Regions from separate parts of the Homo sapiens genome. Here region 1 is reported to be linked to region 2. The links are microRNA targets in miRTarBase. Many come from high-throughput screens and were not tested one by one. Region 2 holds a microRNA gene; the other region holds the end of a gene's coding sequence.

Region 1 (3,000 bases), not on the chromosome of region 2:
GGAGGGGCAGGGTGAAGGCAAGGAGGGGCAGGGTGAAGGCGAGGAGGAAGCCACAAGGCGAGGCCCGGGCCTGGCCGGGTAAAAGGAGCCAGGGGGTGTGAAACGGCCAGAGAAGAAGCGGGAAAGAGGGCCAGGCGGCCGCGTGGGGCTCCCAGGCTAACCTGCGCCGGTTCTGACCCCCAGGAAGCCACTGAGGAACGGCCTGGTGAAGGACAAGCGCTTCTGAACCCCTCGGCCCCGCCCCCGTGGACCCGGCCCCACCCCGAATACCCCGGCCACGCTCCCCGTCCTTGGCCGCCCCTCCACCCCCTCCAACTCTGCTCCTCTAGGGCCGCCGCCACCTCCCCTGGGACCCCGCCCCCTCATCCTGCCTCCAGTTCCCGGCCACGCCCCCCAGGACCCCTGCCCCTCCGGGGACACCGGCCCCGCCCTCAGCCCACTGGTCCCGGGCCGCCGCGGACCCTGCGCACTCTCTGGTCATCGCCTGGGAGGAAGATGCCACCGCCGCAGCAAGGTCCCTGCGGCCACCACCTCCTCCTCCTCCTGGCCCTGCTGCTGCCCTCGCTGCCCCTGACCCGCGCCCCCGTGCCCCCAGGCCCAGCCGCCGCCCTGCTCCAGGCTCTAGGACTGCGCGATGAGCCCCAGGGTGCCCCCAGGCTCCGGCCGGTTCCCCCGGTCATGTGGCGCCTGTTTCGACGCCGGGACCCCCAGGAGACCAGGTCTGGCTCGCGGCGGACGTCCCCAGGGGTCACCCTGCAACCGTGCCACGTGGAGGAGCTGGGGGTCGCCGGAAACATCGTGCGCCACATCCCGGACCGCGGTGAGTGGGGCTTTCGCTGGGGACACTGGTCCTGGAGGCCAGACCTCGCAGGGCGAGCCTCGAGAGTGGCCCGGGGATGCCCGAGCAGCTCCGAGGGTCCCCACCCGCCCTGTCCAGGCTACTAGCAACTTCGGCCACCGCACCTCACCCTTTCCTCGTCATCTGCTGCACGCCGGGGACACATGTCAGGGGGTTCCCAAGACCAGTCCTTCTGCTTGATGCTGAAGCCCTGTCCCCACCCCATGCCCACCCCCACCTCTTGACACTAATGCCTTCCTGCAGATGCCATCCCCACACCCTAGCATGGCTTCCCCAGGGGCCCAGGTTCTGGCTCATGTCTCCCACTTCGGCCACCCCTCCTCCTATGCCCCCCGCCGAGGGCAGCCCACCCCCCCCGCCGCACCCCGCAGGGCGCCTTCCTTGGAACTCATGCCCTGCCCCCACTCCATCAGCCCACCCCGCCGCTTCACACCCTTCCCACAGACGGTGCGCCCCGAGCCCCAGCGTTCACCTTCCTCCCTGTCCCTAACCGAGACCCCATGGGCAGGCCGGGGACGCAGCGCGAGCCGAGTTCCTGTTCCTACCTCCCCAGGTGCGCCCACCCGGGCCTCGGAGCCTGCCTCGGCCGCGGGGCATTGCCCTGAGTGGACAGTCGTCTTCGACCTGTCGGCTGTGGAACCCGCTGAGCGCCCGAGCCGGGCCCGCCTGGAGCTGCGTTTCGCGGCGGCGGCGGCGGCAGCCCCGGAGGGCGGCTGGGAGCTGAGCGTGGCGCAAGCGGGCCAGGGCGCGGGCGCGGACCCCGGGCCGGTGCTGCTCCGCCAGTTGGTGCCCGCCCTGGGGCCGCCAGTGCGCGCGGAGCTGCTGGGCGCCGCTTGGGCTCGCAACGCCTCATGGCCGCGCAGCCTCCGCCTGGCGCTGGCGCTACGCCCCCGGGCCCCTGCCGCCTGCGCGCGCCTGGCCGAGGCCTCGCTGCTGCTGGTGACCCTCGACCCGCGCCTGTGCCACCCCCTGGCCCGGCCGCGGCGCGACGCCGAACCCGTGTTGGGCGGCGGCCCCGGGGGCGCTTGTCGCGCGCGGCGGCTGTACGTGAGCTTCCGCGAGGTGGGCTGGCACCGCTGGGTCATCGCGCCGCGCGGCTTCCTGGCCAACTACTGCCAGGGTCAGTGCGCGCTGCCCGTCGCGCTGTCGGGGTCCGGGGGGCCGCCGGCGCTCAACCACGCTGTGCTGCGCGCGCTCATGCACGCGGCCGCCCCGGGAGCCGCCGACCTGCCCTGCTGCGTGCCCGCGCGCCTGTCGCCCATCTCCGTGCTCTTCTTTGACAACAGCGACAACGTGGTGCTGCGGCAGTATGAGGACATGGTGGTGGACGAGTGCGGCTGCCGCTAACCCGGGGCGGGCAGGGACGCGGGCCCAACAATAAATGCCGCGTGGTCTGCTCCGCTGGTCTCCTTGGACTCCTTGCCTGGGTGGTGGGGAGGGCGCCCCTCAGTCTTGGTGATCGGATAGGCCTTTCCACCTCCAGGCCACCTGCCAGAGGCCTAACGCGCCACTCCGGGGAGCCGCCCGGACAGGCCCAGGTGCTGCCTACGGGAAGGGCCCAGGGGCAGGGGTCGCCCTTCAGTCCTGCAAGGCAGACCTGTCCCTTCTGGGCTTTGCCTGTCTCCCTCTGGCCTCCTTCACACCCCAACCCGTCACTCAGCCAAGGCAAAACCCCAGCACCCTCCACCCCCTGCAGTTTATCCAACCTTGGTGTGAAGTCAAAACTGTTTATTAATATTTGGTGACAAAAGAACTTAAATTGACCGAAAATCAAAAGTTACATTGCCTTGGTACAGTGCGCCTGGGTTTGTCAAGGCTGCTGCTACAAAGCTGGAGAACACAGCACAGGGCGAAGCAGAGGCAAAGCGGCCCAGCCCAACAGCCGGGATGGGGCAGGGAGCGTCCCTCAGGCCGCCGCGGGGTCACCGCGGAAACCTACCCGGTGCATGCCTCTACGCGGCCTACCGGAAGAAGGGGAAACCGAAAGCCCTAGAGCAATGGGAATAAATAAGAGTCCCTGCCAGAAGGAAGGTGGCCTGTGCGTCCCCGTCTGTCCCATGTAGAAGCCGGAATCTGGAGGTGTTCGGATCAGGGCCAGTGACAGCCCCAGGCCCGGGGCAGGGGAAGCTGGAGGCCTGGCC
Region 2 (3,145 bases):
TGAACTCCGAAATGGCCCCGTCCTGTCCGCCTCATCTCCCTCCCCCTAATATTTTCCTTGCCCCATAAATTCCTCTAGGTCATGCCCACCCCCACCACAGTCCACCGTGTCCTAAATACCCCGCAGTCCGCCAGGCCTCTGAGATTTTCATTTAAAAAATTAACCCTGGAGGAAACCCTGGCTCCCAATTTTAAGTGTCTGCAAATGGGCTGGGCATGTCTGGATGCCTTTTCCACGTTTTATGCCTGAGAAGACACTGATTATTTCAGTATTTTTTAAGTAAAAAAGCTGTTCCTTTAAACAGCCTTAGCCCCAAAATAAGAGAGTTACTGAACAATTAGCAGGCGTTGAGTGTTAAGCAGATGTTACTGGTGCCTAGAAAGCGGAGAAAAATCAGAAAACCAAATATTGTCTTCCTTCAGCCCAAAGGTTTGGAGCCAGAATAGTCTGACTTTTTTGTCTGCTTTTATTTTCGAAGTGAAAGAGATTGCGTATGCATAAAGAAATAATAAATGAGTATAATTTAAAGCGGCCCCTTCTCGACTGAGATTTCTGAAACTGTGATCTCTGAAATAAATCCAATGCCCTGGTCCAGAAAATGGCAGGGAGGAGTTGAAGGGAATGGGGTGTGTGGTCCTTTCAGACAGCAGGTCGGTGGCTGTGCAACGAAAGAGTTCCTGGGCCTCCAGTCCAGGCAGGGAAAGGAAACAGCTTTGTGGGCACGAATCTGTAACTGTGTGTGTTGGGAGTAGGGAGAGATAGTTTGTTTTCTGTTTTCTGTAGGGAAAATGGTCAGACTGGCTCCCATCTGTAGACTACAATTTGGAACGATGACTCAAGTTTATATCAATGGCTCTGGAATTTGGGATTCTTTTTGCCCATTTAAAACATACTGGCTCTTGGAAGGGTCCCCTTCTCCAGCACCCAGCTGCACAAAGGTGCTGTATGGAACATATTTTGTACCTAATGGAAGCCACTAGTAAGCAAGCAGTCAAGCTTTGCCCTAGCCAGTCTCCCTCAATGCGGTCAAACCCCAAGCTGTGACCGGCAGGCCGGGAAGAGCCAGCTAAGAGCTTCCCAGCGAATGGCCAGGCTCCAGCGAGGCTGGTTGGGCCTCAGCTCCAGTCCCCAGTGAGGCTGGCGAAGGCCTCCCTGCCCTCGATATGGGCACACAAAGCTGCAGCGAATGTCCCCTAATCAGATCTCCTAGTCAGCCGTTAGCGACAGGCGAAGAAACGCAAGGCTGCCGCCATCCGGTCGTGATCATAACCGAGGCCTTGTCTGCAGAGTAACACACCAGGCCCAAACCCACCGCCCTCGGCAGCCGCCCCACGCGGGCCCTTCCTCGGCAGACTTCCCAACCTCTACTTGAGCCGCAGAGGAAAGTGAGACCCCCTAGGCTCTCCTGAAGCCAGCTCTGGGCCCCTCCCCAAGGATGCTTTGGGAAGGAGATAAGGAGGTGAGATAGAATCTGGCAGAGACGGAAGATGAAAAAAAGACCAACGGAAGAAAAGAAAGCAGGAAGGAGCAAAGGAAAGAAGAAAAAAAGAAAGAAGAGATAAAAGAGGAAGGGAAGACAGGGAAAAGAAGGAAGAAAAGAGAGGCGACTCCTAGCAGCGGCCGAGCTTACAGAGAGAAGGGTAAGTGACAAGGCCAGGATCCCAGCCTGCCCTATCCTTCCTAGTCCAGCCTGAGTCTCCACTGGAAGGAGGTTCTTTCCTGAGCTCACACCCGGGACTGGTGTGTGTGTGTGTGTGTGTGTGTGTGTGTGTGTGTGTGTTCCAGCCTTACAAGAGAATGGCAGGAGGTCCCTGGGCAGGCGCAGGCCTCCAGTGGGAGGCTCAGGATGGAAGCGGGCGCCCCTGACCTTGAATGGCCCAAAGCCCAGAATTCCTACCACGCCCCCGGCGTCCGCGAAGGAGCAGCCAACCTAACCCTACCTGCTGTGACCAGGTGGAGGTGTGTGGTGGAAGGGGAAAGCCGGCCGGCTGGCAAAGCGCTGCGGAGAAAGACACGAGGCTCCTGAGCAGGGAAAGCCGAGGTTGCCACCGCAGGCCTGGCACGACCAGGGCCGTGATGCCCCGCCCGGCCCGACCCCCGCGCGCAGAGGTACCTGGAGACGATTTCAACTGAAGTAATGAAGGCAGTGTCGTGCTGTCGAGAGAAAGGTGGATCCCAACAACAGGAAACTACCTAAATCACCGACCAGTTCTGGTGCTGCCCGCGAAGGGCTGCCTCGCCCGCCGCCGCCGCCGCCTCCGCCGCTGCCGCCGCCGCCAAGGAGAGAACCCTGCCATCGCGCCTGGCCCGGCCCAGCCCAGCCCCTAGGCAACCTGCGCCCGCCAGTGCAACAGAGTGCCCCAGGCGGCCGCAAATGCGTCAAGGAAGGGGAAGCCACAGGCCCCAGTAAGGTATTCCTGGGAGGGAGAGGGAGGAAAAGAGAGGGAGGAAAGGCAGGGAGAGAGGAATAAAGGCGGGGAGCAGGCGAGACGAGAGCAGCTCCGAGAAGCAGTGTGCGCGCCGCTTTCCCAAATCTTGCAGCCCAGCGAGCCGGCGCCAAGAGGCGGTAGCCGTGGAAGGCTCGAAAGCGCCAGGGACGGTACAGATCCCGGCTCCCTGTCTGGCCCCGGCCTCCCGCCTCTCGCTCTCCCCCTCTCCCTCCTAGCTGCCCGCCCGCCGGGGCGCGCGCTCCTGCGCCCCCTCCCCTTAGCCCCCGCCCCCCCCACTCTGGCAAGCAGGAAACGCGTGGCCCTAAGGAGTGCCGCCAGGTGGGGGAGGCCGTACTGGGGGAGGGGGAGGCCCCCATGCAGTCCAGCCCGGGTCCACCTAACCGCTGCCTCCAGCGGCTAGAGATGCGCTGTGGGCCAGGCCTGCTCCCCGATTCAGATTGAGGGTCATCTGTGACCCAGACACCCGCAAAATAACCGGCCTCTGCAAGCCTCCCTGGGGCTCCCGAAAGAAATCCTGTTTGGCTTCCTCTGTCTATGTAGCTCCCCTCTCAACTGAAATCACTGGTCCAAGACAGCCACAATCCAGATATACTAGCAAGCCATAAAACTGAACAAAAGCCGACAAACCTTACGGCACCAGGGCTATAGGGCCCAGACAAATTACGACCGTCTAGGTAATATTTAAATAGATGCCT

The links. Region 2 holds the annotated microRNA hsa-miR-196b-3p (UCGACAGCACGACACUGCCUUC, at 2,140-2,161, opposite strand). A microRNA usually pairs through its seed, bases 2 to 8, with sites in the 3' UTR of a target mRNA and lowers its output. Matches are read on the target gene's strand: a 7mer-m8 pairs with bases 2 to 8, a 7mer-A1 pairs with bases 2 to 7 and ends in A, and an 8mer does both.
Region 1: the mRNA of CERS1 is a reported target of hsa-miR-196b-3p. Seed matches in the 3' UTR shown: 7mer-m8 at 2,002-2,008.

The regions. Positions count from the first base shown.
Region 1 is chr19:18,867,803-18,870,802 of GRCh38, reverse strand. CERS1 (ceramide synthase 1) reads left to right here. Exons shown (of 8, transcript NM_021267.5): 7 at 184-820; 8 at 1,413-2,258. The coding sequence ends at 226. UPF1 (UPF1 RNA helicase and ATPase) reads right to left here. Exons shown (of 24, transcript NM_002911.4): 24 at 2,573-3,000. GDF1 (growth differentiation factor 1) reads left to right here. Exons shown (of 8, transcript NM_001492.6): 7 at 184-820; 8 at 1,413-2,258. The coding sequence starts at 496. The coding sequence ends at 2,206. Among named protein-coding and RNA genes, the nearest start is that of CERS1, 27 kb to the left of the region's middle.
Region 2 is chr7:27,167,354-27,170,498 of GRCh38, forward strand. It overlaps MIR196B (microRNA 196b), which reads right to left and starts at 2,210; the gene lies at 2,127-2,210. The region is part of intron 1 of HOXA10-HOXA9 (HOXA10-HOXA9 readthrough); the gene reads right to left. It overlaps HOXA10-AS (HOXA10 antisense RNA), which reads left to right and starts at 1,546. Exons shown (of 3, transcript NR_046609.1): 1 at 1,546-1,640; 2 at 1,954-2,411. RefSeq lists enhancers at 1-41, 1,231-1,821, 1,822-2,412.